5 separate regions of the Homo sapiens genome follow, and all the other regions are reported to be linked to region 1. The links are microRNA targets in miRTarBase. Many come from high-throughput screens and were not tested one by one. Region 1 holds a microRNA gene; each other region holds the end of a gene's coding sequence. Distances are from middle to middle.

Region 1 (6,435 bases):
CAGCCTCCCTGCCACATGCCAGGCCCCATACCAGGCCAAGGCCAGCCCTGGGCATGAAAGTGTGAGTGAGATACAGCCTGGACCCAAAAAGCCTCCACAGTTGATGGGTGAAGCTGACCTACTAACCTCAACCCTCACCCCTAGCCCTGTGGTTTTAGCACTGGCAGGCTGGGAAGGTGTGTGCAGGGCATTTGAGACATGCTGCCTTACCAGCTTCGAAGGGAGGAAGAGCTGGCGGGGAGGGCAGGCCACATGAGGAAGGCGAAACAATTTCTTCCTGGCGAGCAGGAAGACAGGTGGGGGGAGCAGGAGGGTAGTTTGCATGGCAAGGCTGGGTCATACCAGGCCCCATAAACCAGGTAAGGCGCTTGGGCTTATCCCAAGGGAGAGGGTGGGGATACTGTGGTCAGATTAGCTCAGAGGACGGTCAGTGGAGCAGGGCAGGACAGAGATGGGGAGGTGGCAGTGGTGACGGCAGCTGGGACATTCCATTCCGTAGGGACCATCCCACTGATCAGTCCTGCCTTCCCACCACCCTGGTTCTAGCTCTGCCACCCCCAGCAACCATGTATCCTAGGGAAAGGCAGAAGTCTCTGCAGGGGCTAAAGGGGCACCAGGGAGAAGGTCAGGGTCCACTGGCCACAGTGCAGCCCCCTCCCCTGGCTGTGTGGCACGGGGCCTGCAGCCTCTGGGAGCAGTTGCCAGGGCCCGGGTTCCCTGCTCCACCACTCACCTTGGCTATAAACACTTCATTGTCCTGATCCTGTTTGCTCATCTGTGCGCTGCCCGTGGTTGTGAGGATTCACTGAAATCATGAAAATGTAGCACAGTCTGTGCTCAAAGATCAATAGCTTTACTGTGACTCAATCTGCCCAAAGCCCCCAATTTCTTCTTCAGCGCCCACCCTGCTGAGGCCCCATAATAATTCTATTCCTGCCAGCATGGAGCACCAGCAGCTGTACCAGCCAAATGAAGCTATGTGGGTCGGGGGACAAAGATGATGCAAGGCTCCTCCACGCCAGCTTGGACTATAAAACGCATTCTAATCACTGACCTTACCTCCATGCTTAGCACTTAGCAGTACTTGGGCACCGCGATTATGCTGCTGTTGATCACTACACTAAACCGTTCAGCCCACATCTCCTGGTTTTGTTATTTACAAGCTTAAGAACAGAGAGCAGGCCGGGCGCAGTGGCTCATGCCTGTAATCCCAGCACTTTGGGAGACCAAGGCGGGCAGATCACGAGGTCAGGAGATCGAGACCATCCTGGCTAACACGGTGAAACCCCCGTCTCTACTAAAAATACAAAAAATTAGCCAGGCGTGGTGGTGGGCGCCTGTAGTCCCAGCTACTCAGGAGGCTGAAGCAGGACAATGGCGTGAACCCGGGAGGCGGGGTTTGCAGTGAGCCGAGATGGCGCCACTGCACTCCAGCCTGGGCGACAGAGCAAGACTCAAGTCTCAAAAAAAAAAAAAAAAAAGAACAGAGAGCAGAGCCGTTTCAGGCCCTGGTCTCTGGCAGACCCCTACTCACCTTCCTGGGCATGTATCCAAGGTCCTTCTCCCATGGCACCTGCTTCCTCTGCCATCGTGGACTTAATGGCCAAGTCCAACTCCTCCTTTCATTCTGCACACAGCCACAAGAGCCATCCAACCAGAACACACATCTGATCACACCCCCTCTGGCTGCGTGGCTCCCATGGTCCTTAGGTTCGGGAACAAATGCAGCCTTAAGATGGCCAGCCTTCCAGCCCGGCATAGACCCCAGGAAATCTGTGTGCTCTCCAACAGGAGTCTCCTCCTCTCCCTGAGGGTCACTCATCTTCCAGGACTCCCCACCCCTCCCTGTGTCCCAGCAGGTGCCGTGTGGCCCTAGCTCAGAGCAGCCTTCTTCATGCCCTGCAGAGCCAGCCTGTTTACGCAGCGTCTGCTTGTGCTCACGGCATGTAACATGCATAGTGCAGCCTGCGGGAGAACAGTTCCCTTCTCTTTCTGTCTCAAGAGCTGCCGGCTCAGACCTTCCCTACTCGGCCTGTGTCTCCCCAAAAGAGCGCAGTGAGCTGCACGGAGCCGGTTGAGCCTGGAGCCACCAGATAGATGTCTGCCCCGCCCTGCCCAGCCACAGGGGTTGGTGGGTCATGGAACCACACATGACCCTCCGAGGGCAGGTGAGGAGAAAGGAGGGCTGATGGGGGCTGATAGAAGGGGTTTGGGGGATGGGGAGCACCAGAGAAGGAAGGCTGGCAGGCCGAGGGCTGGGGAGCAGGGGATAGGCCTTCACATTTGCATTTGCACCGTTCACTGCGGGCTAGGCCACACTCACACACACACTTACACCTGCACCCACACCCTCTCAACCACACGCGCAGCTCCCACTCTGGCTCCTGAGCCATCTGCAGGCCAGGAGACTCCAGGGCCGGGCTTCCCCAGCAGGTCTGCCCACCAAGCCCAACTCTCTGGGAAGTGCCACTCACTCTGACCCTGTGGCCCGGCTCCGGCTCAGGGGAGCTCCCACTGCAAACACAAGCTCTGGGAAGGTGAGTGGAGGCTTTGTCTCAGGTTCTGAGGCGTCAGGAGGAACAAATCCATGAAGTGGAATGCTGGAGGCATAGAGGTCCAGCCCATGGGCCACCTGCACCCCAGGGGGCCAGTCCCGCATTTACACAAGTGACTTGTACACTCTCCTCCTGCACATCTCTGGAGGCTTATCCCATCTGGCCCTCCATGGCCTCAGCAGGATCACTGGATGTCCGTGATGCACGGCGTGCCCTCCCTGCCCTCATCCTCCCAGCCAGCAGCCCAGGAAGGAACCACTCTTAGTGACCTGTGGAAGGTTAGGAGACCCTCCCTCGGGGCCCTAGAGCCCACCCTGAACAGGGCCTTTCAGGGGAGAGGGTGAGAAGGTTCACCACCCAGAGGAGCCAGGCCAAAGCCCTGAAACCAAACATCCCCCAGTTCCCTCACTCCTCGATTCAGACTCCAGGGCCACAGCCTGGAGCAGAGCTGGACCCCAGCTCCTCTTGGCAGCACCCCTGAGGGCCAGAGAACGGCTTCCCAGCTGACTTGAGGACCTGTGACCTCAGGGGGATGCAGGGAAACACAGAGTGTCACTTCCAGCTGCACCTGCCCTCTGCCACTACCCAGCAGTCCGGGACCTGAGTCCCCTCCTTCCTCGCGGAGAACAGCAGGTCCAGCATGGCCGGCCCTTCCCTCGCTGGCTGTGCACAGGGTGCCGGCTGAGTCCTCGCCCCATAGTTGGCAAGTCTAGAACCACCGGATCCTGTTACCTCACCAGTGTGAGTTCTACCATTGCCAAAAACGGGGGGAGGCAAGCAGCTCCCCCCAGGAGCTGGGGAGGCCTCGGTCTGTGCTGAGGAAGAGACAGAGACAGTTAGGATGGTCCAGGCAGGGCCAGGACAGAGGCGCCCATCCCCGCAACTGCGACAAGGTCCTTCCTGCAGGGTCGCCCTGGTGTGGAGGCCCAACCCCACAGTCCCCCTTCCTGCTGGTCCCGGTCCCTCCTCAGCCCCCTCCTCTCCTCCCTTCCCCTCATATCTGTAACCTGCAGTTCCTGTGGGCAGGCATGGAGCAGACACCATCCCTAGGGCAGCCACCAGGATCCAACCCAGGCCCTGAGCTGTGGTCACCACTCCCAAGGGAACCCGAGGGCACCTCCACTCCCAGCACCTGACAGCAGGGACTCTGGGAACCAGCACAAGCCAGGCCAGAGAGCCCTGCCCCTGGGCGCTGGGGAAGAGATGGCTAATGTGGGCTGGGTTTTGCTATTTACTAAGCCCACGTCACTGCTCCATTTAATCCAGAGAGATGCTCCCAAGCCATTCCCTAGAGCCTAAAGCTCACAGGCTGCCCACCCCAAAGGGAGAGAGGGAAGTTGCTACACAAAACATTCCTCCTCCCTATCAAGTCCAAGGGAGGAAGAGCATTCCACTTGCCAAGGCCTCTTCCCTAAAAGCAGTGGACAAACAATGGCGCTGGGACCTTCTACCCAGGAACGGGAACAGGCAGCCTCTGGGGCCATCAGTCAGTGGCAGGAATGGGCCAAGCTAAAACCAACCAAATATCTCCCATCCAGACGGCACTCTCCTGACCACAGAACCCACTGCACACACCCAGCAGCCCTGCACACACCCAGACCCTTTGAGGGCTGGCTGCGATCTGATTCTCGGAGTGGCATTTCCCCAGACCGCCAGTCACTTACCCAAGGGCAGCACACTTCCGTGTTCCCACTTCCCCTGATGAGGCCAGGTCCTTTCCCAAGGGGTGTTGAAGTGTCCTGAAGGCATCTCAAGCCTTTAGCAAGGGTGCAGGCTGCCTGCCCCCAACCCTGCATCCCCATGCCTCCCCTGCAGCCTGGAAGGGACTCTTTGCCCTCAAGCCTCCTGGGCAGTATGGGCCCACCATGAGCAGGCTCATTTTCCGAACATGCCCCGGCTGGGGGAGCAGCTGACTTGGCAGGGCCCCCAAAATGACACCGCTGCCGCCGCCACCGCCACCACCCCTCCCATCCTGCCTGCCCTTTAGGGTGGAGTGAGATGGGATGATGGCTTAAGATGCAAACAGATCCAGGCCATCCCCAGGGCCAAGTCCAGGACCTCGGTGGCACCCAGACCGGACCGGCAGCCTGGGCTTGGGCGCTGGGGAGGACACCTCTGCCCGAAAGGAGAGGCTTGGTGGGGAAGGTTTGGCCTCTGAGCAGAGGCACGACTCTGGAAGCCTCTCCGAGGGTGGGCGGGCCTGCTTTGGGACATCAGCAGCACTGGGCTCTCTTGGTCCCATGGAGCCCCCAAGCCTGGGACTTGCTGAGGAGGCCACTCCCACCCTCCTCCAGTGTGTATGTGGGGGGTCCTGTCCTCCTCCCCACCCAGCTGTGGCCGCACCAGCCGGGCTCCATCGGCAGCCTGGGGCTGCAGGCGATCAATGGTGCCGGATCGCATTTCGACCCGCCTGAGGCTGGGCAGAGGCTGGGATAATGGCCTGGAATGAATAAGCAAATGGAGTGGTGGGGGAGGCGGGGAGTCTGGAAAACCCACTCATACAGCCCTCCAGGGAGCTGCCCCTCCTGCCGCTCCACGCACCCAGACAGGCCAAGCAAGGTGCCCGACATGGGGGACGCCCTAAACCCGGGCATCTGGGAGCCGCTGCTTTTGACAAACAGAAAAACAAAGCAAAAAGTGCTTCTCAGTGACCCTCCCGCTCCAGCAAGAAAGGCCTTCGCTGCAGTGGGACAGCGTTCCTGCCTGACACTGGACACCATTGGACAGATCATGGGCAGAACCTTTTGCCCATCTCACAGACCTTCTGGAAGCCACACAAGGGAGGATCCAGGACCTGTTCTGCAGGGTGGGGAGGTGAAGAGGGGCCCTCTCCTATCCTAAGTGCCCCCAGCCTGGGTGGTAGGAAATTGTGTCTTTAGGGAGGAGGGCCAGCTGTGGTGGCCCCCACTCTCTGGGACAGTCACTGTTGTGGGTGAACTCACCACCCAGGTCTGGCCCGGAACTAGGTAAATTAGGAGATCTAGAAACTAGCTTTGGCCTGAGGTCCTCCCCTGGAGCGCTGGAGCAGGGCCCCAGAGCAGCCGGGCCTGAAGCCTGGTGGAGGCACGCCCCCACACCAGTGCCTGCACTCGGGGCTCAGCAAAGGCGCCCACCTGGGCAGGTGTGAGGAGGTGGAGCCCAGCTGCAGACCACCCAGGGGCTGAGGGCAGCTTCTGTCATCCGGCCTTCCCCGCTAGGCAGGAAGGAGCAGAACCCTGGCCAGACACTCCAGAGGCTCCAGGGAAAAGCTCTAGAACCGGTCACTGCCAGGGGCCTTCCACCCCCCCTTGCTGGGTCTCTGTGCCCACCCCACCTCCAGGGCTCATTCTCACTCAGGCCGGGAAATCCCTTCTTTCCTATCCCATGGGACCTGCAGCAGGACGCCCTAAGGAAGCACCCGGGGCGGAGGACTGGAGCACAGAGACAGGGTGCGGCACAGGCCAGCCAGGTTCCGAGGGGCAGAGGGAGAGCTGGGGCCATCAGAAGAGAGACCTAGCTACAGGGACACCTCACCAGGGCAGAAGTCCCCTTCTATCCTGAAATAAACAAGCCCCTCCTTTTTTCTGCAGGGGCTTGGAGAGCTTCTGTAGAGAAACACGGGCACCACACCCCAGAGGGAATTTATTGGGGGCTCCTCGCGGTTTGGTGATAGCTAACTGACAAGAAAAAAAAGGCCCAACCCACCCAAGGCAGTCCCCAGGGCACCCAGGCAGGCAGCACTGGTCACCATGTTCCTGCTGTGCAGTCAACTGGACCCGTCATCCTCCAGCTGCCAGCTTCAACCACACACATCCCCCACCCGGGCACTCCCTGGCTCAGACACCTAAAATGACTCCCACTGATCTGGGCTAAGTCCACCAACCCTTGCCTGAGGCTCCCT
Region 2 (6,435 bases), 120 Mb from region 1:
CCCTAGGGGGTGGATGAAAAAAAAAAGTCCACCCAGACAATCTGTTTTTTTTTGTGAAAGATCACTTTACAAACTAGAAAGTACCATGTAAACATAAAATATCCAAGTGTGAAATCTGAAGTGAAACAGGCTGGATGTAGATTTAGGTGTCTCCTGATGAGTGTGAACACTGGGAAAGTGATGGTACCTCTCTGGGCCACCACCTCCACGTCCCTAACTTCTGCGGATATTGTGAAGATTGAATGAGCAATGTGTGTGTGAAGCACTTTACATAGGGCCTAGCACTGAGTCAACATCCCAGAAATCATACATATTGTTATTGTTTCATTTTTCAGATATTTATTTGGATTGGCAAAGATGCTAATGAAGTTGAGAAAAAAGAATCTCTGAAGTCTGGTAAGCTCAATCGATGGACCATTATAGCAGTAACCGGGCACCATTATGACCGAGTGTCTGGCTTGCTCTTTGCCACCATGTCTTACAAAAATACATTTCAAAATCAAGAAGTAGCTTAGCATTCCTCCTCAAAACTAAAGAGTAATGGGATTTTTTGAACTGGAGAATTTCCAAATGGGCACAAGAAAACAATATGTTTTGTTATCTAATCTAGAATAGAATTATATCAATTTAATCTGAAAACTTAAATTAATTTCAACCCTTGTTTTATTATAAGAGTAAAACCTCCATGACTGTGATAAGCCAGATTTTTTAAACTTCCTTTTGACTATGCTGTTCTTTCTGGCACAATTTTCCTTTTACTGAAACGTATAACAATAATTATGCCACAAGGACAATTCCATAAAACTTGGAATTCTTTCAGGCATTAATGAGATTCACATGTTGCCTTTCATGGCAGACGAGAGAAATCAAAAAGAAATTGTATTTGTCTACCTGGTCAATGGAAATTTATTACTTTGATTTGAAGAATTGTATTCGAAGAATTTTCATTTTCAATGTAGCCAATATTTATTTGTTCTTCTGGAAATTTAATTCATTACTTTTATTCGAAGAATTTTCAATCTGCAGTTACTTTAGTTTAACCCAAACTAACTGAATTTATATGTCTTTACAACTTTTTTTAGCCAAAATGTACCTTGAGACAGACCCTTCTGGAAGAGACAAGAGGACACCAATTGTCATCATAAAACAGGGCCATGAGCCACCCACATTCACAGGCTGGTTCCTGGGCTGGGATTCCAGCAAGTGGTAAATTGGTATTTGTAAAAAGCAAACAAACATTACAAGGCAGTTATCTCATTGCTGTTTTGGGAGAGGAACGGGAAAAGCTTTTTGCTTATTTGTCTTTTGAAAATTAAGGCTGGGCGCGGTGGCTCACACCTGTAATCCCAGCACTTTGAGAGGATGAGGTAGGCGGATCACTGGGGTCAGGATTTCGAGACCAGCCTGGCCAACATGGCGAAACCTCGCCTCTACTAAAAATACAAAAAAATTAGCTGCGCGTGGTGGTGCACGCCTGTAGTCCCTGCTACTTGGAAGGCTGAGACAGGAAAATTGCTTGAACCCAGGAGGCTGAGGTTGCAGTGAGCCAGGATTGCGCCACCACACTCCAGCCTGGGCAACAGAGACTCTGTCTCAAAAAAAAAAAAAAAAAAAATTAACCTCAACCAAACGCCTATTTTTTAATGCTTAGTTTTGGCTTGAAATTCTTCTTCACCTGGAGTTTTCTTACGTTAATACATTAAAATAACCTGAAGGAAACTTTCGTTATGGGCCAATATTAGCTCTTATGGAAACTGATTTATATCTTTTTTATGACCTTTCAAAAGTAAAATACTATGCATAATCTAGAAAGATTTGTCAGATAGGAAATTTTATAATGCATTAGCCATTAGTCAGAGTTGTTTTTTAACATGCCAGAGAAAAAGTTGTAATGCCTTGGAAGTTATTCTCTTTTCTATAGATTGTGTTCAAAAGATGTGTATACTTGCAATAAGGTTTATGTTAAGGTGGCTTTAACAATTGGTTGCTATTTTCCTTCTTTAGTCAATATGACTTTGATGTCATTAACTGCTAAGTGTTATTTTCTAAGAGGAATTTTATCTTTTTTTTAACCTTATTAAAAGCCTTTGAAAACACAGCTCTTTCATGACAAAATGAATTGTATTGTTATCCACTTAGATACATGTACATGTACAGTACATGTTTAATATCACAGGAGATCAAAAAGACAATGCACAGGGGAGTATCCCAGGGAGCAGAGCCAAGTTCAAGTAAGTTAACGATATCAAGTTACTTACTGGCAGGTAGCCACTAGAGAATCTTAGCAATTTTTGTCCTGCAAGATTTCAGCAAAGCTACAGAAAAGTGAGTTTTTATGTTTTCCATTCTTCCCTTTTCTAAGTAATAATTTTTATCGCAGTTACCCTGATTCTATTCCATTCCATTCTATTCTATTCTATTATTTCATTCTATTTTATTTCCAATATACCATTGTATATCAGTATATACTGATACACTGAGTGGCAGTTGCATTATCTACTAATCTATATAGGTCATTGAAAAAGAAGAAGCTACGTTAGAACCCATGGAAAGAACTTTGCCTCATGTAGAGATTCTAGATTCTTAGCCAAAAGCTCAGAATTGTTGGGCCCTAAAGGATGAACAATGTAGGGTCCAACAATTCATCCCACATGAATTTTTCTCATCCTTCATGTGGAATGAAAAAACTAAAGAGACAACTGACTTACCACACAAATGGACTATGGTAGAAGCTGCTGTCCCTTAGTATTGAATATCTCTATTTTCTTTTAATCATAGAATTCACTGATATTTTAGCAGATAATGTGGCCGTCCAGGCAGGCATGAGATTTCTCAGCCTTACTTCAACTTGATTATGACCATGTGACCCAATTCTGACATTTGCCTAAAGGAAAATTTACCTAAAAAGGCGTTTTCTTGCTATGGCAGTGTAACCTGTACTAATAAATATAGTGCTAGTCCTGCATGCAACAAAAATGATGTAAGTAGACATTTAACATTTCTAGGAATGTAATTGAGTGAAAAATAATTTTTAAAAATATTTATAAATATCTTCTGGGTCAAGCTGAATATTTTTTGAAGGATGATGAGAATAAAATGATTTAATAAGTAGTACTTTTTCACAAAATTAGTAAAGGTCAAGGTGAGTGGCTTAGGGTACACTGTATTTTACGATGTTTCTCTAGTTTAGCCAGTGGTTTTTCTCATCTCCAATTTATAGCACAGGCCGAGGCATATAGTAGGGTCTCAGTTAATATTTATTGAATGGCAATATCAAAAATGAGATCAGCAGCAAGATGATAAGGCAGAATAAAAGTTGCTGAGAGCCTAAAATGATTATTCAGTTCTGTTGCAGGGTTTTAACCTGCCCAAAGGATGGAAAAAGAAGAACATAAGCATAATTTCTGAATGCATCACGGCAAAGATGCATGTACTCATGAAGCATAAAATTAAAAATATGATACATTCACTACATGAAAATATGATATACGGTTTTTCTTCAGTATCCGCGGGAGATTGGCTCGAGGAACCCCATGGATACCAACATCCTTGAATGCTCAAGTCCCTTATATAAAACGGCATAGTATTTGCATAAAACCTATACCATTCTCCTGTATACTCTAAGTCATCTCTGCGTTACTTATAATACCTAATACAGTGTAAACGCTGTGTAAACAGTTGTTATACTATATTGGTTTTTTAATTTGCATTACTTTTGTATTGTTGTATTATTTTATTGTTTTTCCCCAAATAGTTTTGATCCGCAGATGTAGAACCCACAGATATGATAAATCAACTGTATCTAGTACCCAAAACAGATGAGTAACTTAGAAATTAATATGTAATACATACAGCTAATGTTATAGCTACTTAAGGAATTCCTTTCACTGAAAAGAAACTCTTACAAATCAATGAGTCAACAACCCAATGGAAAAATGGCCAAAAGACATGAATAGAAGTTCACAGAAAAGAATGAAAATGACCAGTAAATAATGAAAAGATGTTCTAAGACACTCTTAATTAAATAAATTCACAATAAAATAATCATACTTTTATCTATCTACCAGATTAGCAAATGTTAAAATATTAAAATGTTAGTGGTCATCAAAATGTAGGGTTACAGGTTCACCCATACACTGTTAATAGATGTATAAACTGGTCAAAACTTTTTGATCCATAGCACAGTATTACTTTTGTAAACATACACAAAAAATATTATATATTTGCCAAACGTATGTACTAATCTAAAACCAAACACATTAGACTAGGTACATGTGGAGAAAGAGATACAGGTGTTCCCTAGCAAGTTAATATGCTTGTGTCTCTTCAAACCAATATATTGGCATATTTATCTAATATTTAATCAGAAGAAAGAAAGAACAGAAAGACCCAGGAAGCCTACTGTTAGTAGAGGTCAGCCTCATCTTTTCTCTCTGATTCAAGAAATTCATACTCAACTCAGTCAAACAGAGGTCCTGCATTTACCTCTTGGTGCCGGAGAGCCTTGGTGAGCCATTTAGATCCTCTGTATCTTCTCAAGCACAATCCTCAGTGTTCTCTTCTCGTCTTAGATAGCTCATCAAATAATATTTCCCACCACTTATTTCTAGCAGTTCTGGTAAAGAGAATGGCCTTCACATTGTATTTTGAACAATGTTTTGGCCTCCAGTAATGATTAGGAACACACTATAAACATAAAACATCAGTCCACTTAACTCATTATTCAGTCATCAAGCAATTCTTGTCCCAATCATTCTCCAAAGCTATATACTGTGAATTTATACTGTTGTGTAGTGACACAAGCCCTTCTGCTGAAAAAGTAGGTAGATAATTACTTTGAACTGAAAGAAAACACTTATTTTATTTTCTTTTAAACCTAATTTATTTTAAACCTAATTTATTTATTTTAAACCTAATTTATTTTAAACCTAATTTATTTATTTTAAACATTTATTTTAAACCTAATTCATTTGAACTGAACTTGAATTTAAAAGCCTACAAATGCCCCGCATATGTAGAATTATCATTCATTCCGTGTTCTTGCTCTTGGATAAAACGGACAACTCAGAGAAAAAACTGGCTTATAAATGCACTTCACAAAAACTGTTAGAAAAGTAGCCATTAAACCTGTAAAAAGGCCGGGCGCAGTGGCTGACGCCTGTAATCCCAGCACTTTGAAAGGCCAAGGCGGTTGGATCACGAGGCCAGGAGTCCGAGACCAGCCTGACCAACATAGTGAAACCCCGTCTCTACTAAAAATACAAAAAATTAGCTGGGCGTAGTGGCGGGCGCCTGTAATCCTAGCTACTCGGGAGGCTGAGGCAGGAGAATCGCTTGAACCCGGGAGGCGGAGGTTGGAGCGAAAGTACGCGCCACTGTACTCCAGCCTGCGTGACGATGAGAGTCTCCGTCTCGGGGGAAGAAAAAAAAAACCTGTAAAAAGTGGCTCAACTTTAATATTCATTAGGAAATGACTAAAATCAAATATTTTACTTGGTAATGCCAAGTAAAAATACAGGAGAGGATATAGTGAAACTGGAGCTTACATCCACTACTTGGGAAGTATAAATTGATACAATGGGTTTGAACAGTTTTTGTATTTTCTACTAAAATGAACATACACATATCCTATAATCCAGAAATCCCACTCCATGGTGTGTACCCAACAAAAATGCATACATGTGTGTACTAAAGGATATAATATGATTTTTTTTTTTTTTTTTTTTTTTTTGAGATAGGTTCTCACTCTGTTGCCCAGGCTGGAGTACAGTAGCGATCTCTGCTCACTGCAATCTCTGCCTCCTGGGTTCAAGCAATCCTCCCACCTCAGTCTCCCCAGGAGCTGGGACTCTAGGTGCGTGCCACCACGCCCAGCTAATTCTTTGTAGAGATGGGGTTTTGCCATGTTGTCCAGGCTGGTCTTGAACTCCTAGACTCAGGAAATCCACCTGCCTTGGCCTCCCAATATGCTGGGATTACAGGCATGAGCCACCGCATCTGGACACGAATTTTTAAGTTTTATATATGTGTGTGTATATATATATATATATATATATATATATATATATTTTTTTTTTTTTTTTTTTTTTTTTTGCATTGGCAAAAAAACAAAGATATTGTTTAGCAATTTCCTTGTATAATGCAATCAGTGGAAGACAAATCAGAGGTATTATTTTCCCTTGGGCCTTTGCAGCCTGTGTTGTTTTTCTCTTTTTCATATTGATGTGAAAAGCAGCCAAGTATTATTTGACAACATCAGTCCCTTATTAAGATGTTATTTCTAGTTTATAATTGACTATGGCATTTGCATGCATTTCATCATGTCTCCATTTCTTCGGAATGATAATTTCTAATATACTTTTCTTCTATTATAGGAATAAGAATTCAGTAGTCATATTTCCTGTTGCCTATAAAAAATTGATGCTTTAATTTAGT
Region 3 (6,435 bases), not on the chromosome of region 1:
TATGGTTTTAGGTCTAACATGTAAGTCTTTAATCCATCTTGAATTAATTTTTGTGTAAGGTGTAAGGAAGGGATCCAGTTTCAGCTTTCTACATATGAACAGCTACCATTTCTTAACCACTCACAATGTGTTAAGCACTCACTTAATCTCATTCTTTAAAACAAAACAAAACAAAAACACCAATGAGGACACATACTGTTGCAACAAACACTGTACAGATGAAAAAGCTGGGACTCAGAAATGTTGAATAGCAGCCCAGGACACACACTAGGAAGTAATAGGGCTGGGATTAGCACCTGAGTGTGTGTGACTCCAGATCCATGCTCATAACCATCTGGCCTCGGAGCCCTCCCACAGGGCTGTGAGAAGAGATTGTCTTGCTGGGCCAGTGGGTGCAGGAGACACTGAAGCTTGGAATAGGGTGGGATTTTTCTCCCTTACAGGGAAGGAGAGAATTGAGTGAGGGGAGCCTTAGCAGTCCCTGACTCCACCCTTTCTCACTAGATTTGGGGGAAACTGAGGCCCATAATAGTTGGAGAGGCAGGATCCAGAAACCAGGGGGGTTTGTTTACCTTGGCCTGGAGTTGGCTCCTCCCAGGTGGCTCCGCCTCTGTGTAGTGCCCTCATCCCTCCCTCTCTGTGTCCACAGGCTTCCTGTCACTTCGTGTCACATCCCACTCCTGTCCTTCACTCCCTCTCAGTCTATCCAGCCACCCCCAGTGTGGAGAGCAGACTAGACTCCTTTCTCGGACACTGCCATTGCCTCGTCATAGAGGCAGGGCAGCCCCAGCTACTCACTCTGAGCCTCAGGGTCCTTGTCTGTGAAATGGGACCATACCACCACTGCAGAGCTTATGTGAGGGGCAAAGCAGAGACTGTATGCAGAGCACATTGCATAGCTGCCAGTATGTCAAAAAAGCCAGCACTCCACAGTTCCTTTATGCAATACTTATAACTCCAGGATCTGTGGCTGCTGCCACTGTGGATGGTCCCGCCACGGACTCTTCCAGCATCTAGTGAGCTGAAAGGAAGGAAAGATGGTATTGGCACTGAAGCCTGAAACTCAGCTGAAGAAATAGAATTCCGTGCCATGACAGCTGCACATGCCACATTGGGTGTCCTGGGTCCTCTGTGACAAGAACCTTACTGAGGTCTCTGTGTGGTCTGAGATTAGCACCAGCAGCATTGGACCGTTGCCTTCTTTCTTCCTCCAACAGAAATGCCTCCACGGCTGTGTACGCCTGTTGCAACCCCATCCAGGAGACATATTTCCAGCAGCTGGCACCTGCAGCACGGAGCTCCGGCTTCCCAAACCCTCAGGATGGCGCCTTCAGCCTCTCCGGCAAAGCAAAGCAGAAGCTGCTGAAGCACGGGGTGAACTTGCTCTGAACTGCACCCAGGAGGTGACTGGGAAGGAGAAAACCAGCAAAGGAAGCTCTGCCTTTTATAATTGAAAAGGCCCCTCTATTTTATTTTTCTTGAAAACATTCCCTTTTTTAGGAACCAAATGATATTTGAGTTTTTGTTATTCCTTTTGCAGATTGGGATGTGTTTTGGGGGCAGGGGTTAGTTCTTCAGGTCGGCAGACCCAGAGCACTTGATAAAGAACTGTATTTAATCGGTAGTGTTGGGGCCGGGACGGGCTTGGCTCCCTCTCTGCCATACTGAGCCTGAGGTATTTCATATCTCCTGCTGTTCCATCCCAGCTTGAATTGGTGCCACAAGCTTCCAAGTTGGCATTTTTTCTAGAACCTGATCGTCCACTAGCCCAGAGTGTGTGTGTTCAACCCCCACACCAGGTGGTGGTAGGCGGTGTGACTGCACAGCGAGGTGCCGGATCTGTGAGCAGGCCGACTCCACTCCCACGCCGCAGGTAGGTTTCTCCAGTGCGCTCTTGCTGGGAGGTCCGGATCGTTCCTGCAGGGAAGCGGCAGCACACGGAGACCACTTGGTTGAATTCTGTTGGAACTCTACTCAAATCTAGGGGCGTCTTCTTTGGACCCACAATGGGGGCAAGCCTTAATAATATGGAAGGGAGTTTGGGCTTTAGAGATCCCTTTATAAAAGCTCTGGGGGCTGAGCCCTGAGAATTCAGTGACAACAGGACCAACCTGCGCTGCCTTTGACTACAAGTGGGCCGTGCAGCTGGTTCCTCTCGAGCGAGTGTCCCTAAATAGGAGTTTACAAGATGTCTGGGGGTAAAAGCACTGTGCTTTTCAGTGGTGGCTGCGTGAAAGGGAGCGACACTCAGCTGTGTGTTCCTGGGCTTGTGTGGTACTTAGAACCTCAGTTCTATTACGTTATAGTCAGACATTTTTTTGACAGTATGAGACAGACTGCAGGATGAAAATATTTGTCAAAATCTTAACTGAATGTTTACTGGAAGTACTTGAGATTCCATTTGAGAGTTGTATTGTTAATAATTTCATGTCAGTGAACTGATATCTGATGTTTATGATATGGTGTCTTTTTCTTGAAACAAGCTTCCAAGGGCTAGAAATAAAATAGCCAAAAAATGCTGGAGTTCTGAGTAATTAAATGGCAGCATTTTTTTGTGACAAAGGTAAGGGTTAAGACAGTGTGTGTGTGTGTGTGTGTGTGTGTGTGTGTGTGTGTGCGCGCGCGCGCGCGCGCGTAACGTGGGCGCATCCCTCTTTTCCTTCCCTGGGTTCAGTGTGGCTGGGTAAGGACCGTCTGTTTGTAGGGCTGCCAGGCTGCAGCCTGCTGCTCCAGGGAGCACCAGCTGCAGCTGATCCAATACACCAAGCCTGTGTCTCCCTCTTCTATCACCTCTCTCCAGGATCTCTGCTGTCTCTTGGATCCCATCTGCCTAGATGGAAGAGGATCCTATCCGAAGCTAGGATAAATGTTGTCTTACTCCTCTGCTATGTTCTCCCAGAAAAAATTGATTACAAGTTCTCTGCTGTGGTTGCTGCAGCTCCAGGAAGTCCCCGCAATGTCTCACGTTGTCTTTGACCAGTGGTCCCCAGTACCAGGCCAGCGAAGACAACTTTATAATGTCATTTGTGTTGTGAAAATTCTTCCACTGACCCAAAATGGAACCGTACAAAGCCTATCCGTGTATATGGAAAAGTCTCATGCACCTGGATTAACTCAGAAAAAGTAAAGTCCTGAAACTTCACTTTGCAGGTGTGCCCCTTTCTTTCCTCCTTTGATCCTGCTTAGTTTCTGCAGTGGAGGTTCTGCTCAGAGCCCCAGGGCACTGGCAGCTGCAGCCGTCATCTCTAAAGCTTGGTAACTGTGGCCCAGAGGCTGCAGAGAAGAAACACTTAACCCGCTGTTTTCCCGTTTTTTAATATTTCAGAGGTTTCAGGGGGTCACTCAGGACACGGTTAATCCCACAGCCCCAGGCCCATCCCCTCAAAATTAGCGCCCCCAGAGTACGGGCCAAGCGACGGACAGCCAAGCAGCATGTTCTTGCTGGAATGGGCACCACAACCTCTTATGGCCATGTTTCCCAAGGGAAGGCAGTGTGCAGGACAGCCTGCCCACCCTGGACTCCTAGTTGACACCGAGTGCCACTGTCAGTGATCCAGGACCACAGATTCTAGTGACTCTTCAGGGCAGAAAAGCCTCTGTTTTGGCTTCCTCTGTGCCAGCCATCTGCCACCTGTGAACTGTAAGGATAAAGGTCGCATGAGTGATTAATAGTGGTGTGTTAGTCCGTTCTCACGGTTCTAATAAAGACATACCCGAGACTGGGTACTTTATAAAGGAAAGAGGTTTAACTGACTCACAGTTCTGCAGGGCTGGAGAGACCTTGGGAAACTTATGATCATGGCAGAAGGGGAACCAAACACATCCTTCTTCACATGGTGGCAGCAAAGAGAAGTGCAGAGTGAAAGGGGGGAAAAGCCCCTTATACAACCATCAGATCTCACGAGAACTGTCACAAGAACAGCATGGAAGTAACCACACCCATAATTCAATTACCTCCCACCAGGTCCCTCCCACGACATGTGGGGACTATGAGAACTACAAAATGAGATTTGGGTGGGAACACAGCCAAACCATATCAAGTGGCAATCAGATTCCTACTGGGAAAGGACCCCTAGAGGGGATGTTTGAGCCTGATCAAACTGTCTCCTCCCCTGGAGGGAAGCATCTAGACTTCTGGGCCGTTGTCACTTCAACCGACAGAGGGTGGTAGCAAGTGGAGCCCAGGGGCTTTGTTGAAGTCGCCCTCCATGGTGTCTGTCTTGCATATTTGGTGGTCTTTTCCAATGTGGCTAAGATGTACTTCCCATGCCGCCCAGTTACTGCGTTCTTAACACCCCGCCCTGCTCGGGGTGGGTGAGTAGCAGCAGACCTTTCTCTGGTGTGAGCCTCCCTGCCACAGGCCACTTCCCTGTGTGTGCAGTGAGCTGAATGGTGGCCCCCAAAGATCAGGTCCCAATCCCCAGAACCTGTGAATGTTGCCTTGTTGGATCGGATGTTTGCAGATGTGGTTGAGTGAAGGATCTTGAGACGAAGAGATGATCCTGGCTTATCCCGTGGTCCCTAAATGCCCTCACAAATGTGCTTTTAGGAGAGGGGCAGGGGGAGGTTACTCACGTGGAGAAGGCCACGTGAAGATGGCAAAGACTGGAGTGATGTGGCCGCCAGTCAAGGAATGCCAGCAGCCACCAGGTGCCAGAAAAGGCAAGAAGTGGATTCTGCCCTAGAGTGTGCGGAGGGACTGTGACTGTCAACGTACTGAATTCGGTCCCGTGAAACTGATTTCAGACTTCGGCCTCCAGAACCGTGAGAGCATGGGTTTGTGTTGTAAGCCTCTGGGTATATGCTCATTTGTTACAGCAGCCAGAGGAAACAAATCCATCCTCCTGCCAACTTGCTTTCTCCTTGTGATGCCCAGTTCCCTCTCTCTCAGTAGCGCCGAGCCACAGAGCACGGAGGGCGTGAGAAGAGCTGGGGCCCCACATGAGGTTGCCATGGCGCGGGGCACAGGGGAGCCTTTAAGCAGGGGAGTGGGATGGGCGCGGTGTGACGCCTGTATAATCCCAGCACTTTGGGAGGCCGAGGCGGGTGGATCACTTGAGCTCAGGAGTTCAAGACCAGCCTGGCCAACGTGATGAAACCCTGTCTCTACTAAAAATACAAAAATTAACCAGGTGGGGTGGCGCATGCCTGTAATCCCAGCTACTCGGGAGGCCGAAGCCGGAGAATTGCTTAAACCCAGGAGGCGGAGGTTGCAGTGAGCCGAGCTGAGATTCATTGCACTCCAGCCTGGGTGACAGAGTGAGACTCTGTCTCAAAAAAAAAAAAAAAAAAAAAAAATGCAGGGGAGTGACTGGAGCTGGTTCTCATGAGGAAGGTCACTAGCTCCTGAGTAGGGGATAAGCTGGGCAACAGTGGAAACCACCAGGAGGCTATGGTTGTCCAGGTGGGAAGTGGAATGGCTGAAGCAGAGAGGAGGCCAGATAATGGGCAGACGAGCCTGGGCACTGATGAGGTTTGGGGCGGGGAGGGACAGCCCCAGTGGAGAAGGCAGCCAAGGAGATAGATTCCTGCCCTGAAGGAGCTGGCGGACGGAGTGAGCAGGAAACCCACACTAATACTCTCAGCCTGTGCTCCCGACACACACACTCCTCTCCCAACCCCTGAACCCACCGCTGCTCCTGGGAAAAGGGCAGTGGGTGTGGGAAAGCACTTGTCTCCTGCTTTGCTTCTTGATTCTGACTGCCACCCGGCTCTCTGTGAGGAGACAGGGGAGGGCAGGTGTCAGACCCACTCTCAGCATCCTAGCTTAGAAATAAAACATACTCTAGATCTTTCTTCAACATATTTGTTGAGTTTGAGAAGCTTACAGTGAAGATTCTAAGGGCTTCAAGGTGAAAATAGGACACCTTCTCTGTTGATCCAGTATTTAAATGTCCAAACCTGAAATTAGCTGTACTTCCCCTGAGAATAAAACCCAGAGAGTGCTTTGGAATCCTGTCAAGAGCTGGGAGGTGTTTTATGATTGCCTGTGCATGCCGAGGTATAAGCCGAAAAGTTGCAACCCTTCTCCCCTGCCCTGCCTCGCTGTCAGCTGGGCCAAGCACCCTGAGGAAAGGGCTTGAGGCCCAGGCTGCCAAACCCATGGGGAGGAGAGGGAGACAAGTCCTCTACCGAGTGTGCTGTTCAAAGACACCTTGTGCATCCTTCCTCCCCACCCAGGCTGGACTGGCTTGTGTGGCTGTGGCAGGAGCACATGGGCTTTGGTGTCAGACAGCTGGGTTCAAATCGCAGCTCTGCCACTTATTGCTGGAAATCAGGGCAAGTTGCTTTTCTGTCTCTGAGCCTCAGTGTCCTTTTCTTTAAAATGGACAGGAGAAGGAAATGGATGTAAGGACTTGGCCTATCATGGGCCCTCAGCAAATGGAGGGTCCTGTTGAGTGTTCTGAGAAGGCAAATGGCCTCCCAGCACAGGGA
Region 4 (6,435 bases), not on the chromosome of region 1:
AAAATGTACAATTCAGTGGCTTTTAGTATGTTCAAAGTTGTGCATCCATCACTGTAATCAATTTTAGAACATTTTCATCACCCCCAAAAGCCCGTAGCCATGAGAAATCACTTCCCATTTCCCTCCTTTACGGCCCTCAGCAACCCCAATCTACTGTCTTTCTCTATAGATTTGCTTCTTTTCTGGGCATTTCATATAAATGGAATCATACAATATGTGGGCCTTTGTGACTGCCGTCTTTTACTTAGTATAATGGTTTCTAGGTTCCACCATGATTCAGTTGTAGCATGAATTTATTCCTTTTTTTAAAGTTTTGTTTTTTATGGCCCAACAATATTCCATTGCATGGCTATGCCATGCTTTTTAATCCATTGATCATTTGATGGACATTCAGATTATTTGCACTCTTTGGCTGTTTTGAATACTGTTATGAACATTTACATACAGGTTTTTGTGTGAATGTATGTTTTCATTTCTCTTAGGTATATACCTAGGAGTGAACTGCTGGGTCATATGGTAGCTCTGTGTTTAACCTTTTGAGGAACTGCCAGACCATTTTTTAAAGCAGCTACATCATTTGGGAATTGAATTTTAAAATTGTATTGAATTTCTATTCTTGGAAAGATTCTCTGAGCTTTAAGTATTATGTGATTAACATAAGGAAATTATCATCAAATAATTTGTTTATTGCCAAATATCCATTTTCTATGTCTAATATGACTTGACATAATCTGTTCAGTTCATTTCCTTTTAAGAGGATGAATTGTGACTAAGTGAATTTCATAAACATATTCAAAGGCTACTTAAATGTATTAAAAGTACTGTCTCCTATAATATTGTAATTGCTCAATATATATTTGGGAAGGAGATTTTTTAGAATTGCTTTCAGAGTCCAACCAAGCTATACTATTTTGTATTTCCCCAAATCTTTGCATTTAAGGATAGATTTCATTTCCTTTGGGGGGGATAAAGAGCCCCCGAAGTCATTCAAAGTAGAATCTAAAGTAAACCAAATTGGGTAATGCTACATCTGGTTGAAAATGAAGGAAGATTATTAAAGTAATAAGAACTGATTTGTTGTGTAGCTTTTAAAATGACTGTAAAGGCAGTTTAAAAGAGGCTTGCCTCGAAATGTTCTGGGCAACGGCAGCACCTCAGTGATGACTTTCAAGGGCCTTCTTTTAAGTGCACATTTATTTTTTTAAACATCACGTTATTTTAGTCACACCTCCTTCTGCTACCTGAAAGATATATCATTCCATAACATCTGTACTGAATATTTTTCAAAGTATTTCAGGAAGCCATTTTCTCCTAACACCTGGTATTTGTGTTCAAAGCCATTAGAACCTCATTCTCCTGACCCAGGAGAATTCTTTAGATACACCATCACTCCTCTGTTTATCATGTGCCAAGGAACTCCTATTAATGCAGTTCACCTTCAGTTTGTGATAGCAGTGTTTTCTTTGTGTGTAATTTTTTTTTTTGGTCTTGTTTTGTTTTAACCAAGTGAATTTCTCTTTTGTTTACCAATTGTTTAATGACTCCATCAGGACCTCTTAAAAAATCACACTAATTTAAATAAATTTTAAGCCTATGAAAATAAATAATTCCAAAACTCTTCATCTTTTCCTCAGTGACACTGCTTTACTGGAGGAAGAACTGAAGAAACTCATTGATGCTCTGATAGAGAATTTTCTTCAGCCTAGTAAGAATGGACTGATCTGGCGTTCTGTTTAGGGGTACACCAATATGTCATGACACTGTGTGGGCATATGGAACAGAGCAACCGAGAACTGCATACATTGAACCTTGTGTTAGCATTCTCTCTCTATCTCATCTGGCCGAGTATCTTTTTCCTTTTATTTTCTTTCTTTTTGGTCAACTGGCTAGACTAAACAAAGTATAAGTTTGAAATGAAATGGTCTAGAGGGAAATGATTCAAATTTTTTCATAATTCAAACAAAAGTTATTACACTAAAAGTATTATAGTAACGTATTGTCCTTCCGTTAACAGAAACATCACAATTCAAAAGTGAGTTTTCTTATTATAGTGTGATTAAGCCTAGTTCTGTATCTCGTAATTGTGTATAGCATGGTAAAAGAAAAAAAAAAAGACAGGTAAATGTTATATAATTGTAGGGTTAGTTAAGGAAATTAGTCCATAAAATTGGCAAGAAAATGGTACTTTCCTTGATTGTTATGAAAAAGTGTCATTGTGACATCACAGGTATTAATTTACAAATTAGAGTATTTGAAATAGGATATTTAGCATTTCTGTAGTTTAGAACAGATGTTACAGTGTGTGGTTTTGGCATGTCTGTTTCAGGTGCCCTTGGTGCAGTATAAATTTACTGTATGTATTTAAAATTCTGATGTTTACTGAACATAAAACAATAGTGGCAACACTCCTATTGGCTTTGTTCTTATCAAATTTCTCAGTGCCTTCTCAGGGTCTGGTGTGAACAGAAAAAACAGTGTTCCTGCATTTACCATAATTTAATCAGTCAATTTGCAGATAGCTAAGGAAAATCTTCCAAAATCTGTAGGTGCTTCCTCTATATCAAGTGAGTTTGCTGATTTTAAAATCTTAGGAATATAAATAAAGATCTTAATAAAAGCAAGCTTAATGTAGTTAAGGATCTTCATATTAGAATTGTGTCATTTATCAAACCTTTTATTACAGAAAAAAATCTGAACTGAGAAAGGAGCTCTGAATTTATTTGACAGTCTAACTTTTGAATTACATTTTTGTAAGTAGATTTATTCTTTTATTTTATGAAGTAATGTTAATTTTACTAAGAATAAAACATCCAAATTTTAAGTATTATGAAATACTAAAACTACATGTTTTAAAACAGAGGTCCAGTTTATTCTAACATCTTGCTGACTTCTGTAGAATTTCTGATTGCATGACTATTATTTATCTTCTTTTAGTGTAGAAAATAATTTTTTACAAAAAGTCACTTTTGGGCTGGGCGCAGTGGCTCACGCCTGTAATCCCAGCACTTTGGGAGGCTGAGGCAGGTGGATCACAATGTCAGGAGTTTGAGACTAGCCTGGCCAATATGGTGAAACCCTGTCTCTACTAAAAATACAAAAATTAGCCGGGTGTGGTGGTGGGCACCTGTAGTCCCAGCTACTCGGGAGGCTGAGGCAGGAGAATTGCTTGAACCTAGGAGGCTGAGATTGCAGTGAGCCGAAATCACGCCACTACACTCCAGCCTGGGCAACAGAGGGAGACTCCATCTCAAAAAAAAAAAAAGTCACTTTTGGCTAATCATGCAGTCTTCTGAAAAGGTTTAATAGAGAAATGCTGTTTAGGCTGGGCTTGGTGGCTCACATCTGTAATACCAGCGCTTTGGGAGGCTGAGGCAGGAGGATTGCTTGAGGCCAGGAGTTTAAGTTACAGAACTATGATCACACTGCCGCACTGAAGCCTGGATGACAGAGTGAGACCTTATCTCAAAAAAAAAAAAAAAAAGAGAGAGAGAGAGAAAAAGAAATGCTGTGTTTAATCTTCTTAAAATGTATCTTGTCCTACATAGTTCTCAGAATACATATGGGGTATAGTTAGGAGATAACAATAACAAGACCTAAACAAATTGCTTATGGGAGATAGCACTGTAATTAGAGAATTTATTTCATATAAAATAATAATATAAAGTTTGAACTGATTAGAATGTTCCTTAAATCATGGTTTCGTTTGTTGCAGCTGTCAGCTAACATTTGGTTGAGCTCATATAATCCAAACCTAATTGTCCAACTATTGTATTGCCACTATTGTTAATTTGTTCCTTCCTTACTTTCTTATTGTTGGATCTTATATGACTGTATGACTGTAGATAATAGACAGCTAGCTAAATGTAGAGCACCATTTTTCTCAATGAGTTTGTTTTCAAAGGCTTTGCACTGGAGAAGATATGTGTAGAATTTTTGTTTTATTTTTAAAATGTGTAAAACATCTTTTGTTTTATATGCTTTTAAGAATGTAGATTGTAATTTAGGAAATGGCATATATTCTGCAAAGTGGTATAATGTTGTATATATGAAAAACAGGTATATTTGGTTTAGTTCTGTGTTTCAGTGACTGATAAACAAAAATGAAGCTAAAATGAATCAACGGCTCATTCATAGTTACTAAAGCCATGTCATGACTGTCATTCTATTATGAAGAAAACAGTTTTATTTGAGTGCTTTAATATAATGCAACATTTAAGTCATCTTAAGGTGAAAAGTTATTGAAGTGTTCTTCTCTCAAGTTAACAAAATTTTACAAATGTTCCTGAAGTGTATCGATTGAGGGAATTATTTTATTCTAGCCTGTCATGAGTCTGTCTGAGCATGATACTTAACATGAACTTGATGTAGTAGGTGCACATTTGCCTAACAGGATAAATTCAGTGATAGCCCAAGCTGGTCAGGAGAGACAGAAGTGCTGGCTAGGAGGTCTCAGCCTCGGGCACTACAATGTTTATCTTTTTCTTTTTGAACAATATTGTGAAAATGATTGCATTCTCATTGAGCATGAAAGTCAAAACTGGAATTTTCTAAAGCTTTGGAGAAAAGGAGAGAATTAGTAGGGCAAGATCAAAGCATACATTGGAAATAAACAGTAGAAATAAGCAAACAATATAAAGAGACACGGGAAATGCTTCTCGTGAAGGGCAAATGTAACACCATAACAGTAGGGAATAAACTGTGTCCCACCTGTTTACTTGTGTTTATTTGTTGTTATGATGAGTATGCACCTACCATTTTCCTTTATTGTGATCACTAAAATGAGGCCAAGGTTTAGGAGGTGAGAAAAAGTATCCCTTTTACGGATTCAGTTCCTGCTAGGATGTTGTATCAGAATCATGTGAGAACTCAGGAAGAGGTAGAGCAGAAATAAAAAGGAAGAAAATGTAGATTAGAAAATAAGACTTCTGAGAAAAAGTTCAAGGAATAAAGATTGTTTGACTCTGGAGAGGAGAAAGCTGTTGAGATAGTTTGCTAAGTTTGCTAATAAAGCTTTATTGAGTCTTTTATTGAAGGGTTCAAAGTAAGAAATACTATGCCATAGTGTTCTCCATCTCTAGTGAAGACAGAACCAGAGGGAATAAGGATCTTTTTTTTAAAGACAGCATGGAAAGTTTAAGATTTAGGAACTTCTTGAGAAATCTTCATAATATCTTCTATTCAAAATCTTTTTTTTATTTTTAAGGGAATAAAAATTTTAAAAATTAAGAGATATACAGATGACTTTTTAAGGGTCCTTCTTTCCAGCACATTTTTTTTAAAAACTCAGGTTAGAACAAAAATGTCATAAAGGGCACTAAAAGTAACATTTGGGTTTCACTCCATATCTAGAAGAATTTAGCTCACAAAACAATTTTTGTGTGTTTTGAGTAACTGATGCATAAGTGCAATGAATAATTTTCCTGCTTCACTGTTATTTTTAATTTAACCTGGCAAATTAAGTGAGACTTGAACAAAATTTTGTTCATCTTGAAGAATGTATAGTGGCTTAGGTTATTTGAGGTTTTCGTTTTGAATATATATGTTGTTATTTTGATGTAGATACGTTAGCAGATGGAGAGGTTCTAAGAGATTGGATACTTTGGAATGTCTTTATATAGGAAATAGACCTCCCATTTCTTAAGCAAGTTGCTTCTGGAATTGATGCAACAGGGATATTAGCTGTAGTTTAATGGATAAGTTGTTCTATGAGCTGCTGCTATCAGTACTTTTTTCCACATTTTCCATTGATATTTGTGATGCTTGAAAAATCCAAACTTCACTTGGATACATTTAATTTTATGCCTTTTTCTCTCTACCTCCCACTTTTCCTAGGCACCCTTGCACATTTTGTTACTGTGAAGGACTATTGCCCTGTTACCTCACTGATAAGAAATCTCAACTGTATTCATTCAGAATGCTTTAAGCTTAGTCATAAACTACATTTGCCTATGGACCTTTGGTTATTTTGTTAATGTTGTCATTATATTTAAGACTTATTGTAGGAAGTAATTTTAAATCTATTTCATAACCTGTTTTGATCTGTCTGCATACTGCTATATGTTAATTTATTACGGCCTTTTACAATTCACTTGTCATCTGAGATTGTTCTAGAAACTGATGAGGAAAGAGTCGTACTAACCAAAATGAATGGGCAATTGACATAACATTCTATTTCAGGTTTCCTTGTACTTGGGGAGCCAAAGCACAAGATCTAAGGAAATCTTATTCACATTTGTCCCTCAGAGCATCTTACCCTAAGCCATAGAGGTATAAATAGTAAGATGAGAATTGCTCATTGTCTGACTCCTTGCACAGCATGAATTTAATTCTAGTTGGAAACAAAGTTAGTGTTGACTACTGGTTACCTTAAAGTATTCACCATACTATATATTTATTAGACCATCTTTCCTCTTTGTTTATTCAAGACTATGTACT
Region 5 (6,435 bases), not on the chromosome of region 1:
AATTGGTAAATAGTCAAACAAAGAGACATTCTTCTAGAGCAGGGGTCATCAAATTACAGCCTACAGGTCAAATCTAATCTGTTCCCTGTTTTCGTTAAAGTTTTATTGGCCCACATGCATGTCTGTGTTTGCAAGCTATTGCAAACAACATGCATGCAAGCTATTGTCTATCACTTCTTTCATGCAAAACAGAATTGAGTAGTTGCAGCAAGTTTATATGATGTAAAAAGTCTAAAGTATTTGCTGTCCTGGCCTTTACAGAAAATGTTTGTTGACCCCTGTTCTAGAAAATTAAATAGTCCTTAAGTGGGCCTGTTAGACAATGCTTCATTATAATGACGAAAAGATGTGTAGTTCTCATTTTGCCTTACTTTCTAGTTTTGTATACTTTTTCTCAACACCATTCTCTGAACTGGGTTATGTCCTTCCTTCCCATCTTCCATGGCATCCAAGAATACTTGAGTCTACTCACTGATTATTGCTCTCTTCTGATGGGAAATCACTTTGCTTTCTGGGCCCCTGGGGAATCAGAAGTCTAAGTTGTTGCCTGGAAGAATCTGACTACTAACTTTCTTTTTCCTGTGTCCCTCACCAGGCCTGCTTGTCATGTCACCAGCAAATTCACCGGAATGCACCTATATGCCCTCTTTGCAAGGCCAAGAGTCGGTCCCGGAACCCCAAAAAGCCGAAACGGAAGCAGGATGAATAAAGAAAGGGAGAGCACATGAAGCTTTGCTAATTATAACCCCTCACCTTGACCAGAGTCATTGATGTCCTGATGTGAAACAACCCTTGCCCAACCCCACGAAGTCTCCTATTTAATGTGATGGAAGCACAACCCCTCTCTCACTTTGCTCCTATTTCTTTCTGCTCTTGGGATTTCTGGTTTAGGAAGAGATGTGGTTCAGGTGCTAAACAGTGTGTCTGATGATCCCTTCTCTCCCACTCACATTTCAACCCCTGCCCTTGTTTGGAGCTAAGGGAAGGGCAAAAGGCTCAGATATGATTCTCTATCTCTTGTGCCTGAGGCCTGGAGCCTAAGGAGCTGTAGGGTCTGAGGGGCAGGGGAGGCCCATATCTTGTTTCAGGTAAAGGACCCAGTATTTCCCCTCCTTGTACTTTTGCCTTAGGTTCTCAAGGGACAATAGTCTTCATGTTGGATTCTCCAACAGGCTGGGTGCATGTATCCCCCTACTCCTACCCTCATCTCATCCTTAAGGCCCAGAGGTAGCTTGGACAAGCCCTCCTTTTCATAATCATTTGGGAGGCATGGCTGTAATTCTTTAGCTTTCTCCACTTCTGTCTCCCACATATACTAAAATTCTTAGGTACTAGGCTGTGTGTCTTGGGATCTTAAGATCAATGAACCTTTCCCCAATATCTAGTCTTTGCAAATTCTAGTAGAAGATTTCCACAGTGAAATCAGTGAGCCAGACCAACTCTACATCTCCTGCCTAACCTACTGCCTAAGTCATTAGGGCTGAGGGCTCGGCTGTAGGGGCTTCCTTAGGCTGAGAGTGCCCCCAGGCTGACATCTGTGTTGGCTTTTGTTCAGAACCATTACTCTGGCACATGCTCAATGGTATATTGCAGGGAGGAGAGGAGTAGATTTAGATTTGAGTAAATGCCAATCACTTTACACATGAAGGTGGGTGGGACTTTCCTTCCATTCATCCCTTGCTCTCTTGGATCTGAACTCTTCTGGAGCCTCAGCTCAGGATAGCTGCTGGCCACTCCTGTCCTGTGGATTGTGCAGGTGGCCTTTCCTCCCAAAAGAAAAGGCATCAGGCTCCCCAAGCCCCACAGCTCTCCTTTCCACCAAAGCCAGGTTTCCTGGTAAGGTCACTCGAAGATAAGGGATGGGGATGGGGGCTGACTGACAAAAAATTTTAGCCCCAGGTCTCAGTACCTGGCTGGGGAGGGGGATATTTTTCCTTCCTTAAGTAGTTTTACATTGCCACAGTGTGTATGTGTTCACTATATAAAATGTTCCTCTGCTCTTTGAAAGTAAGAGTGTTGTGTCTGTACAAATCCTTTTAACATGCATTCATTGGAGTAAATTCTGAGTATCTACTGTGTATTGGATAATACAAAAGATGTAATGTCATTTACCTTTCTGGGTAGCTCTTGTTTGCTCTTATTCATTCCACCTTACAAATGAGAAAGCCAGGCACCAAGGACAATAATTTACCTAATTATCACAATAATTTCCATTTATTTAGCACCTACTCTGTGCCAGGTACCTATGCAAGTTGCTTAATATAAATGATTGTATTTGACTTCCAAAATACCTTACAAGCTAAGTATTCTTATCACCATTTTAAAAAAAAAGGGATACTGAACCTCCAAAAACTTAAAAGCTTTTTCAGAGTTAAACAGCTAGTAAGAGGAAATTGCAGGATTTGGAGCCAGCTTTGTCCAACTCCAGAGCTCATTTTTTTCTACTTCTTCTCCATGATCATTTTTAAGAAAACCTTTCTCCCTTTCAGAATGGCTTGATGATGAGAGTGGTTGAAATAACTTTGGAACTGAAATCAAGAACTGGGTGTCAAATGACTGATTCAGGGATATAAAGGCCAAGGGCTCTCTAAATAATATCCTGTACACTAATCTGTCTCTGTGCTTGTCAGGGAATTCAACAGCTAAATAAAACCTCTCTGTGCCTCAGTGTCCTCATCTGGAAAATGGGGAAAATATTAGCACTTATTTCATGGGATTGTGAACAATGTGAGGCACATAGTAAGCACTCATAAGTATTAACATCCTTTTATTCACTGTGCCTCTGGGTTTAGGTAGATTGGAACACTAGTCAAAAATTATACTACTCATCTTCCCTGATATCACCCCAGGTTTTGTATAGCTACAGACGTGCTTTTGAAGTGGCTCAGGCTCACTCTGGGCAAAGGGAGGACAGTCATCTGTGCAACTTGGAGTACACCTTAACCTGTATAGGCCTTAGTGAGTCCCTGTAAAGTACAGGAGGCATGGCCATAGCTCTGCATCCTTGGCACAATGGAGGTCAGGTCTGTCAATTATGTTGTAGTGATGGTAACAGGTTTTGAACTCTGAGCACCAACAGCCAGGAAAGCCATTTCCTAGGGATGCTTTTGAAGGGGAAGAGAGTAATCATGTGTTGAGCACCTACACCTGCCAGCCACTTGGTGGGTCACTACTATCTCATGTAGTCTTTCTGGTTCATTTATCTATTGCCGTGAAACAAACCACACAAACACTTAATGGCTTAAAACAACCATCATTTATTTGCTCATGACTCTGCAGTTTGAGCAGAACTTGCTGGGAATGGCTAATTTCTGTTCTATGTGGTTTTGCCTCAGACAGCTTGGCTAAGGCTGTAAGATCCAAGATGGCTGCACTCTCATCTGGCACCTCACCTGAGGTGGCTGGAACAGGAGTGGGCTGGATGTCTTAATACCAACTCCAGCCTTTGTAGTCTTTTATCCTCCAGGGCCTTTCTCCATTTGGCATTTCACTTCAATAATCAGACTTTTTTACCTGGCAAGTGGCATCCAAGAGAGTGAAAACCAAAGCAGACTGACTTACCCTTCTCTTCCTTCTTCTGTGTCTCTCCTAACCCCCTTGTATTATTTTTTTCATTATATTTTTGTTCCTTCTCTTAATTCTTTATTCTCCCTTGAGCAAGTCTTGGGTTCACCTGCTCCACTGCACTTAGGCAAAAGAAACACAGACTTTTGAGGTAGACAGACTTGAGTCTGAGCTGGCTTTGCCCCTTCCTACTTGCTGGGCAATTACTTTACCTTTTTGAGCCTCAGTTTTATCATCTGTAAAAATGGACACATATAACACACATAAACAGCAAGGCCTTTTGTGGCATAAAACCAGAAGTCACATAGCAATACTGCCTCTGCACTCTATTGGTCAAAGTGAGTCACAGGGCCAGCTCAGGTTTAAAGGGTAAGGGAAATATATATACTCCATGTCTTGAGGGGAGGAGCTGCATGCATGTCAGAGATGGGAGGAATTGTTGCCAGCCATATTTACAGACAATCTACCACATTTTCTGACAACAGTATTTTAAGGAAGGTGTTATTAGATTGATGCAAAAGTTGTGGTTTTTGCCACTACTTTCAATGGTAGACACCACATTTACTTTGGTACCAATGTAATATGCATCCCTTTTTACAGGTGATATAACTGTGGCTCAAAAAAGGTAAAGTTGTTGCTTAACAAACAAGTAGGAAGGGGCAAAGCCAGGTCAGACTCAAGTCTGTCAACCTCGAAAATCTGTGTTTCCTTTGCCTAAGTGCAGTGCTGCAGGTGAACCCAAGACTGGTTAATGGAGAATAAAGAAAGGAAGAAAAGGATCAAAAATATAGTGAAAAAGAAGACAAGGGGCTTGGGAGAGAGAGAGAGAAGAAGGAAGAGGAGGGTGAGTAAGAAGAGTAACAGAAGTAAGACAAGGTATCCTTTATATTTGCTTTACATTGAAAGCACTTTCTTCAACATTTCCATTTCATGCTCACCTTGTTCTGTTGGTAAAGAATGTATTATTAACATACACATTTTACAGATGAGGATAAGGGAACCAACTTGCCCAATAAAGATTACATAGCAAGTTATGAGCAAAGCCATAACTAGAACCTAGGCCTTCCAATCTGGGAATCACTTAGGCTGTAGCATTCTCTATATGCTGCACACAGCAGGGATTAATTGTATGCATGTTTTGTGCCAGAGTTGGCTGCCTTTATTTATTTATATATATATACTTTAAGTTCTGGGGCACATGTGCAGAACATGCAGGTTTGTTACATAGGAATACACATGCCATGGTGGCTTGCTGGACCCATCAACCCATGATCTACATTAGGTATTTCTCCTAATGCTATAGCTCCCCTAGCCCCCCACCCCCTGACAGGCCCTGGTTTGTGATGTTTTCCTCTCTGTGTCCATGTGTTCTCATTGTTCAGCTCCCACTTATGAGTGAGAACAAGTGGTGTTTGGTTTTCTGTTCTTCCGTTAGTTTGCTGAGAATGATGGTTTCCAGCTTCATCTGTGTCCCTGCAAAGGACATGAACTCATCCTTTTTTATGGCTGCAGAGTATTCCATGGTGTATATATGCCACATTTTCTTTATCCAGTCTATCATTGATGGGCATTTGGGTTGGTTCAAAGTCTTGCTATTGTGAAGAGTATTGCAATAAACATATGTGTGAGTGTGTCTTTATAGTAGAATAATTTATAATCCTTTGGGTATATACCCAGTCATGGGATTGCTGGGTCAAAAGGTATTTCTAGTTGTAGATCCTTGAGGAATCGCTACACTGTCTTCCACAGTGGTTGAACTAATTTACACTCCCACCAACAGGGTAAAAGCATTCCTGTCTCTCCACATCCTCTCCAGCATCTGTTGTTTCCTGATTTTGTTAATGATCACCATTCTAACTGGCACGAGATAGCATCTCATTGTGGTTTTGATTTGCATTTCTCTAATGACCAGTGATGATGAGCTCTTCTTCATATGTTTGTTGACTGCATAAATGTCTTCTTTTGAGAAATGTCTGTTCATATCCTTTGCCCACTTTTTAATGGGGTTGTTTTTTTCTTGTAAATTTATTTAACTTCTTTGTAAATTCTGGATATTAGCCCTTTGTGAGATGGATAGATTGCAAAAATATTCTCCCATTCTGTAGGTTGACTGTTTACTCTGATGATAGTTTATTTTGCTGTGCCAAAGCTCCTTAGTTTAATTAGATCCCATTTGTCAATTTTATTTTGTTTTTTTTTTTTTTTTTTTTTTGCCATTGCTTTTGGTCTTTTAGTCATGCAGTCTTTGTCCATGCTTATGTCCTGAATGGTATGCCTAGGTTTTCTTCTATGGTTTTTATGGTTTTAGGTCTTCCATTTAAGTCTTTAATCCATCTTGGGTTAATTTTTGTATAAGGTGTAAGGAAGGGATCCAGTTTCAGCTTTCTACATATGGCTAGCCAGTTTTTCCAACAACAATTATTAAATTCCCCATTACTTCTTTTTATCAGGTTTCTGAAAGATCAGATTGTTGTAGATGTGTGGTGCTATTTCTGAGGCCTCTGTTCTGTTGCATTGGTCTATATATCTGTTTTAGTAACAGTACCATGCTGCTTTGATTACTGTAGCCTTGTAGTATAGTTTGAAGTCAGGTAGCATGATGCCTCCAGCTTTGTTCTTTTTCTTTGGGATTGTCTTGGCTATGCAGGCTCTTTTTTGGTTCCATACAAAATTTAAAGTAGTTTTTTTCTAATTCTGTGAACTAAGTTAATGTTAGCTTGATGGGGATAGCATTGAATCTATGAATTACTTTGGACAGTATGGCCATTTTCACAATATTGATTCTTCCTATCCATGAGCATGGAATGTTTTTCCATTTGTTTGTGTCTTCTCTTATTTCCTTTAGCAGTGGTTTGTAGTACTCCTTGAAGA

Evidence for each region. Region 1 holds the annotated microRNA hsa-miR-182-3p (UGGUUCUAGACUUGCCAACUA, at 3,253-3,273, opposite strand). A microRNA usually pairs through its seed, bases 2 to 8, with sites in the 3' UTR of a target mRNA and lowers its output. Matches are read on the target gene's strand: a 7mer-m8 pairs with bases 2 to 8, a 7mer-A1 pairs with bases 2 to 7 and ends in A, and an 8mer does both.
Region 2: the mRNA of SCIN is a reported target of hsa-miR-182-3p. Seed matches in the 3' UTR shown: 7mer-m8 at 2,538-2,544 and 7mer-m8 at 3,771-3,777.
Region 3: the mRNA of HPS4 is a reported target of hsa-miR-182-3p. Seed matches in the 3' UTR shown: 7mer-m8 at 1,747-1,753 and 7mer-m8 at 2,280-2,286.
Region 4: miRTarBase lists PGM2L1 as a target of hsa-miR-182-3p. Seed matches in the 3' UTR shown: 7mer-A1 at 5,086-5,092.
Region 5: miRTarBase lists ZC4H2 as a target of hsa-miR-182-3p. Seed matches in the 3' UTR shown: 7mer-A1 at 1,554-1,560.

What each region holds. Positions count from the first base shown.
Region 1 is chr7:129,767,154-129,773,588 of GRCh38, forward strand. It overlaps MIR182 (microRNA 182), which reads right to left and starts at 3,339; the gene lies at 3,230-3,339. It overlaps LOC105375501 (a long non-coding RNA gene), which reads right to left and starts at 2,052. Exons shown (of 3, transcript XR_927963.4): 1 at 1,535-2,052; 2 at 734-805. RefSeq lists enhancers at 3,490-4,353, 6,080-6,435.
Region 2 is chr7:12,651,506-12,657,940 of GRCh38, forward strand. It overlaps SCIN (scinderin), which reads left to right. Exons shown (of 16, transcript NM_001112706.3): 15 at 336-396; 16 at 1,083-6,435. The coding sequence ends at 1,210. Among named protein-coding and RNA genes, the nearest start is that of ARL4A, 33 kb to the right of the region's middle.
Region 3 is chr22:26,448,187-26,454,621 of GRCh38, reverse strand. HPS4 (HPS4 biogenesis of lysosomal organelles complex 3 subunit 2) reads left to right here. Exons shown (of 14, transcript NM_022081.6): 14 at 1,218-3,740. The coding sequence ends at 1,389. Among named protein-coding and RNA genes, the nearest start is that of ASPHD2, 22 kb to the right of the region's middle.
Region 4 is chr11:74,331,954-74,338,388 of GRCh38, reverse strand. It overlaps PGM2L1 (phosphoglucomutase 2 like 1), which reads left to right. Exons shown (of 14, transcript NM_173582.6): 14 at 1,635-6,435. The coding sequence ends at 1,737. The region is part of intron 2 of LOC112268078 (a long non-coding RNA gene); the gene reads right to left. Among named protein-coding and RNA genes, the nearest start is that of P4HA3, 24 kb to the right of the region's middle.
Region 5 is chrX:64,912,057-64,918,491 of GRCh38, reverse strand. It overlaps ZC4H2 (zinc finger C4H2-type containing), which reads left to right. Exons shown (of 5, transcript NM_018684.4): 5 at 596-2,685. The coding sequence ends at 709. Among named protein-coding and RNA genes, the nearest start is that of ZC4H2, 61 kb to the left of the region's middle.